2 linked regions of the Homo sapiens genome follow. The protein of the gene in region 2 interacts with the protein of the main gene of each other region in a biochemical or structural test. Each region holds a gene or a part of one and is shown on either strand. Other genes may lie near its edges.

Region 1 (3,816 bases), on a different chromosome or scaffold from region 2:
GAAACTAGAGTGGGTAAGAAGCAAGAAGCAGGAGCTAATGATAGTCACCTTGGGTGTACGTCCTGGGATGGGGTGGGGCGGCCTCTAGATTTATCTGAAATGTTTGAACCTTTTATGATGTGAATGTGTGTAAAATGAGTGTCACTTGAATAATAAACAGAAACTAAGAATTGTTTAGAAGAAAGAAAAGAGACCGAGTGTGGAGACAATGAGGATGGAGCGATACGCAAACAGAAAAACAGAGAGGCAAAAACTGAAAAAGAGAAAAGACAAAGTAAGAAAAAAAAGACTGAAATACAGATGGGGACAGGCTGGAGAGGTGAAGAAAGAGAATGAGAAAGATTAAACACACAGAGAAGCAGACACAGGGTGGAAGGTCCTTCCAAGGCCCACGGCGAGGGGTGCAGGGTTCCACCCCAGTCCCTGGTGGTCGCAGATGCCCTCACCCCTGGCCCTGGCTGACCTGGAGGACCCGCTTGGTGAGGCCCGTCTTTTGCGCGAGCTGCTTCAAGTCCTTGGCGTCGGGGTTGTGGTTAATGGCAAAGTAAGACTTCATGGTCCGAAGCTGGTGGTGCTTGAAGGACGTGCGCATGCGCTTGGTCTTCTGGCTGCTCGGGTATGGCTGGTCACGGTCCAGGTGCTCTGCGTCGTTTTCGTTGCAGCTTAGCGCTAGGGAGGAGACACAGAGCCGGTGGGTGAACTTCCTGACCCGCCCCCCATGCCAAATCCACACTCGCCCCACCCACTGCCAAACATTTCAATCCTTAACCCTGCTGCATGTCTGCGCCACAATGAAAGGGGGACATCATCCCCATTTTATAGATGGAAACACTGAGGCTCAGAGACAGCGATCCACCCAGGATCACACTGCTAAGAACTGCAGCACTGAATCCCGGCTCTGGGAGAATCCAAAAATCATTCTGAGCCATTATGTTACAATAAGAACAATAGTAGCAGCAGCAGCAGCAGCAGCAACAACAGCTACGACTTGTTGATGGCCGATTGAACTCCAGGTGATGTGTTAAAGGGCTTTCCAGGCACATTTTCTTTAGGTACTTAAAACAATCCTAGGAGCACCAGGTATTATTTTTCCCGTTTTTACAGATGTTGAAACTGAGGCTCAGCAAGGGAAGTCACTTGACTTTGGACACAGCAGGACAGGGTCTCTGGGCCTGCCCTCCTCCTGTTTTCCAAGGCACTCTAAGGAGGAGTGCTTTCTGCCGTCTCCCCCTACCGTGTCTGGGACCGGCACCTAGAAACTGCTGAAACAGAGATTCATGTTCATTTTGCCACACCCAAAAGTACTGAGGGACCCCTGGGCCTTGGGCACTGGGCCAAAGGTTGGAAACTGCATTTTGCAGTTTAATCCTCATCGCTACCCTGTAAGATGATTGTTTCTCCGTGAACAAGTGGAGCAAATTAGGCTCGGGGAAGTTCAGAGATCTGCGGCAGTCCACAGAGAGCGGCAGAGTGGACGGGGAAGGAAGTCCGAGGCAGAAATAAACATGTAGTAGACACCTATGGTGTGTGTTTGGCTTTACAAATGTCACTGTACATCATTACCTCTCAGAGAGGTGGCTATGACTATTCCCATTTTAGAGATGTGGAAACTAACGCTAAGGGAAATGAAGCCACTTGCACACTGCCACACCACCGGTAACCAGCTAGATTGATCTTGATCTGTTGAGCCTAGATTTAGCACTGGAGTACTCCTTGTTTTCTTCCACTACACCACGAAGGGAGGAGGGAGCCTGTCCCTAACCACAAGGAGCCTCATGGGGGCCACGCTGCCAATGCCTGGCTGGCATTGGGGGTGGGGAATATGGGTGAAAACCTGGGCCTCAGAAAATTGCTCAGCCACCTGGAAGCTGATGGGGACCTGCAGGACCCCTCCCAAGGTCGCCTCCTCATGGCACCTCCCGAGCCATGCCACACTTAAGGTCTTGCCTTGGGGTAAGCCTCATAAGGGGTGTACATTCGGTCCGCCTAAAGTGAGAACTGAGAAGGTATCTTGTGCCCTCATCACATACCCGTAACAGAGCTCTAGATTTAGCAAATGAAAATACAGGTTGCCCAGTTAAATATAAATTTCAGAAAAATAATAAGTAATTTTTTAGTATAAGCATGTCCTAAATATTGCATGGGACATACCTATACTAAAAATGTATTTGTTGTTTACCTGAAATTCAAATACTACAGGTGACACAGCTATGCTAAAAAATTGTCATTTATCTAAAATTCAAATATTACACGGGACACTTATACTACAAATTTCAAATTTATTCGTTATTTTTCCAAAATGCAAATATTGCCGGGGACACTTACACTAAAAATGTATTTGTTACGTACCCAAAATTCCAATTTAACTGGGGATGCTGCATTTTGCCTGGCCACACTACCTCCAAAGGACTTTTACTCTGCTGGTGACCTCCCCCTTCCCCTGCCCAGATGGGGAAGAGCCCCTTGCAGAGAGAATTTGCAAGATACAAGTCTTGCCCCTGCCTTTGGAGCTGTTAGCTAGGGGCTACACCTCCTAGGGGCCTCTTTCCACCGGCACTCAGGTCCCCTCACCCCCGGGGCTGCATTCCCACAGAGAGCACGCCCAGAGTGAAGAGCGCGGGTCCGGCAATTTAAAGGGGATCAGAGGATGCCTCTGAACCTGATCCACCAGAACTGCTTGGAACCCGCTGAGGTGAGCAACCCTTTTCTTTCCCCCAGTCCCCAGCTCCACTGGGGGTGGGGCAGCCTCCCTACGGGGTATCTTTGGGCCCATCCCTCCACCGAGCCCCCGCCTGGGCCTGGCTGCTGTTAATGAGCTCCGTGGGGACCCCGGCGCCCCCATGGGCCCAAGGGACCTGCCCTGAGTGCCGCCTAGGTGGGGTAGTAGTGCGGGGGAGGGGGACAGAAAGGGCAGAGAAAGGAGAGAAAAAGACAAACACAGAAAGGCAGAATGGAGGGAGAGAAAGAGAGAGGGGGTAGGGACGGAAGATGGACAGAGCCAGGAAAAAGAGAGGACAGACAGAGGAAAAGAAAGCGAAGGAGCCAGGAGAACCACAGAGAGACAGCTACAAAGACAGCAAGAAATAGGGAGAGCGGAGGGGAAAGCGAGTCCCGGAAACAGGCGCAGCTTGTGGCGAGGGTCCGGTGGCCGAGCTGAATCCCGGGGCTCCGGGAGACCCGGTCCCTGCGGGGGAGGCCTTTTCCGAAGCCGTTATTGGCGGGGGAGTAGAGAAAAGGGGAAAGAAGGGGAGTGGAGAAAAAGGGAAAGGAGCCGGCCCTAAGTAGCGAGGCCGAGGCCGGCCAGAGGCAAGGGCAGGGGGCGGCGGCGGGGGAGGCAGCCGTGGGGCCCAGGTTTGGCCGGCGCCCCGAACCCCCTCACTCCCGCCCCCAGTGCCCGGGGGCGGGTCGAGATTCCCCAGGATCGGATCCGGGGAGGAGCGAGGGGCCGAGGGGAGGGGGAGGACCCGGGCTTTCTCTCTCCTTTTTTTTTTTTTTCCTCTCAATTAGGCCGATTCAATGGAGCTAAAGAGCTCGTAAAATCATGAATAATTTACTCGTGATCTGTTATTAACCCATCGGGTTTCGAGCTCTTGTCGCTGGGACTGAACCTGTAATCAAATCTGACTTCGCCTCATTTTACTAAAGACGAGATTGTAGGTTCAATTGTCTAAATAATGGATTGGAATCAAATCAGTAATTACGCCGCCAGGCACACACACACAAAAAGCTGGGGCTGGGGGAGGCCGGGCGTCCGGCCGGTCCGCGCGGGACTCCCGCGGCCGCGGCGCGCAAACCCAGGCGCAAAGTGCGCGGCCC
Region 2 (3,680 bases):
AAAAGAGAGAGAGAGAGAGAGACTCCACCACCACTATGGACAAAGATATTTCTAGAGACATGATGCAAAGTACATTAAATGACATTCTTAGAATCCCTTTCCCCTAAAAAACAAAAAAAATTCATAGAAAAAAAAGGTTTTTCCTTATCCAGGTTTTGTCAGTCCTTTATGCCACTGTAACTACAGGATTCAAAGCTTATGGGGCTAAGGGCTTGGAAAAAATCAAAGACAAACTTTTGGAGATGGGTCTTGCATATTCCTGTGGGCTGACTGAACACCGTGGCTCGGGGAAGTCTGGGTTCCTTCACACTTTGACTGTCAGAAAATGAAGATCACAAGCTCTGGGAGGTGTAACCTTGTCGGCCTGCCTAGAGCCCACACCTGGCGGCGGCAGGGACGGGCCTGGGGAGCGGGCTGACCACACGTAACTGTCATGCCAGGGTGTGAAGACACAGAACATCAGTTCAAACCTCAGAGGAAAGAGAAGGCTCTCTAGCATGGAGAGCGTGGCATTACTGGGAGGCCCTCTGCGCACGAATGATCAGAAAAGGGGCGTTTTGCTGGCAGGGACAAGGGCCAGAAGAAAAAGTCTACAGAAAAATGCTAAGAGTTAGTGTTCGTGCCTCTGACTTCAGTTCCCAAAGAAAAAACAAACAAACAAACAAACAAAAAACACAGAAATTTGAGGGACTCATCTTTGCCCAATCTTGTTAATGCCATTTGATGGGAAAGAAAAAATTCAAATGTGTCTCAGAGTCAAGGGCTGGGCCTTCAAATGCTGATAGCTCTCAGTCTGTCTGTCTACACACCCCAGGTAGCAAAGTCTTCCTCAAGCATCTTCACTATGCTTTTAAGCTAAAAAGCAAAAACACTGGCAACTGTTGGTGTTTCTTTTTTCCTGCTTGATCACAACTGAATAGTTTCCTGCTGCTTTCTGGACAATGAAACATGAACAAAAATGTAACTTCGTGTATTTAATACTTAACCCCTGTTCGTTATCACCCTAGACTGCCTCCCTAATGTTTTAAAGCCTTTAAAACATTTTTTCCTGCAAATCTGTTCAGAGTTCCCTAATTTTAGCTTCATCAAACTTAATACAACAAAATACCTTCAAAAATACAGCATACCTGTAACGTCCATTTACAATGGTTTTTCAGTAGACCTATACTTCTCAAGCATAGGAATATGCTATACCATTGAGAGAAAAAAATAATTGTATTTAAATACTTACAAAAAAAAAAAAAAAAAGGAAACAGGAAAGTTTTAAACTTAAATCCAGTTCCCAAAGGGGGGGTAAAAAGAAAGAAAAGCAATTCTATGAACGCTGCCTTTATAATGAACGATCAGAAATTTTACTAGGCTAATTTGACAGAAATTTTTCCTCATTTAAACAACATTACAAAAGTCCTGCATTATAAAATAGGGTAGAATAAATCAGTGTAATCAATAAAACTATACAACAATACAAATTACATATCTTCTGAGCGGGCAGTTTATTCTCTCTCTTTGCAGTCATGACTACAACATGCTCACTAAAAACAACTAAAACTGCCCAAACTATTGCTTAGTTTGTTTTGTTTAAAAAAGGGTGCAATTTTATTGTATATACAACCAATTTACTGGTAATACCTTGGCTTATTGCAAGGTTCTGACAAAATGTTTGTCTAGGCTTTTTTCCCTTCACTGTGAAGCACTGAAAGCTGCTATTTTTTCTTTTTTTTTTTCTTTTTTTCCTTTTTTTCATTTTTTAGTGCACATATGTCATAATAAAGTAATGCCCAGCTAAGTGCTATAGGGGAAGGCAAAGTATGCTGGCTGGCTATAGGAAGTGACACCATACACTGACAATCACACCATACAACAGCGCCAAACGACTATTCAACCACTTATCAGACACATATGAAAATCCAAAATGTTTTATTTTATTTTTTTTTCCTTAAATAGAGATAACCAGTAAACAATTTTCAGAACTTGGAAGTTTAAAAACGTGCATATAAAAATGGGCATTATATACTTTTTATTGAATGTGGATTGACTGCAGTCTGCTAAGAAAAATGGGGTGTGGGAGCTGAAGAAAAAGGAAGTTGTCTTTTTTTTTTTTAAGGCTTGCTTGTGAAAGGAACAGTTGTAAAAACAAAATTGCTTGAAGCAGGGTCAGCTTAGTGCTTCACAGTTTGACTGCTTCTCTAAGAGGAGCCCTTCCTGCGCACGTGCATTCAAAAATCACAAAAAAGTACAAAGACAAACACCTAAAACACACTGCGTCAAGTGCAGCACCGACTTTGGTCAAATAAAAAAAAATAAAAGAAAAATTAATAATTGCTAAGCTTTTCTACATGATATAAGCAGGTATTGCATATTTTCATATATCTGGGGGAAAATAAAGGAAGACTCCAAATAAATTGTAAAATGCAGCAACATCCAAAATACTGATATTCTAAGCATCTACAGATCTCAGAATAGCACTGCCACCGACCGTACAGGACAATAAAGACTACTCCTATCTGCGGAACAACTAGCTTTCTATTTAGTTCTAGATGTTGAAACTGACGATGGCTGACATAAAAGTCACATTTACAAAAAGTGTCTCCAAATGCTTGACTAGGGAAAAACCCCTTTCAATAGAGGAGCATGTGCAACAATTCCACAAATAATCGCTATCCAGGGCAAGGCACATTGATATGGAATTTTTGTTTTCGTGCAAATTAAGGAAAAAAAACAAAACAAAACAACATTGTTTCGGGGAGAAAGATGAGGAGCAAAGTGTCTTCCCAAGAATTTCAGTTACTTGATTGTATAGGACAGTAGTAGAACCCTTCTGAAGGGCTGAAAAACATAGTTTAAAGGCAAGTGCCTAGAGTAGGGATTACAATATTGTGTCTTAATGCACTCTACTTTATCCTACATTAACTATATAAAAATTAGTTACTAACACTAGAACATGCAGAGACTTTCTCTGATCAGCAGGGCTTGCCAACCAGAACGTATATATATGTATAGTATAGGAAACCTTCTTGAAGTCGCATGGGAAGCAAAGGGGTGCTTCGCTGTCTGGTAGAAAAATCACTTGCACTTTTTTTTGTTTTTGTTTCTGTGGTTTTTTGTGTTTTTTTTTTGTTTTTGTTTTTTGTTTTTTTTTTCATAAGATACAGGACGTTTGGGGGTGCAAACTTTTTTTTTTTTCCCTAACAAGTACCCTTGATCTGAATGGGCACCAGCATTTGTGTCAGTATTGGTTTCATCATTATTATTATTATTATTATTACTATTATTATTTCCCATAGCCCAGTTCAGGGATGCAAAGGTCTTTAAAACTTCTGGACAATCTCTGGTACAATGAGGTGTCTGATAACTGATAAATCCTATGATGCCAGATAGGTGTAAAATTTTTTAGAATTGGCGTAATCCATTATAGTGACTTCTAGCTTATAAAATTAACAGATACCATGATTTCATTTTAGTCATGTGCTTTGATAACAGAAAATAATTAATTAGCATTTAATGTAGTTAACATATTGTGGTAAAAGCACCATTAGATTTGTTTTTTTGTTTTTTTTTTTTAATTTCCTTCAGTTTTTAAAGGGATACAAGTTTAACAATAAAAAACATAAAAAGCAAAAATAGCTCCCCTTTTTCTTGCAAGGCTGTTTTTTACCCCAATAATTTAGAGTCCTGGGGTG

Evidence for each region.
Region 1: the proteins of NFIA (region 2) and LHX2 form a complex in vitro, tested with the Homo sapiens proteins (one study listed by BioGRID).

The regions. Positions count from the first base shown.
Region 1 is NC_000009.12:124,017,952-124,021,767, reverse strand, and holds part of LHX2 (LIM/homeobox protein Lhx2), read right to left. Parts: intron 670-3,816; coding exon 464-669; intron 1-463. UniProt on the Homo sapiens protein: Acts as a transcriptional activator. Stimulates the promoter of the alpha-glycoprotein gene. Transcriptional regulatory protein involved in the control of cell differentiation in developing lymphoid and neural cell types.
Region 2 is NC_000001.11:61,456,256-61,459,935, reverse strand, and holds part of NFIA (nuclear factor 1 A-type), read right to left. Parts: 3' UTR 1-3,680.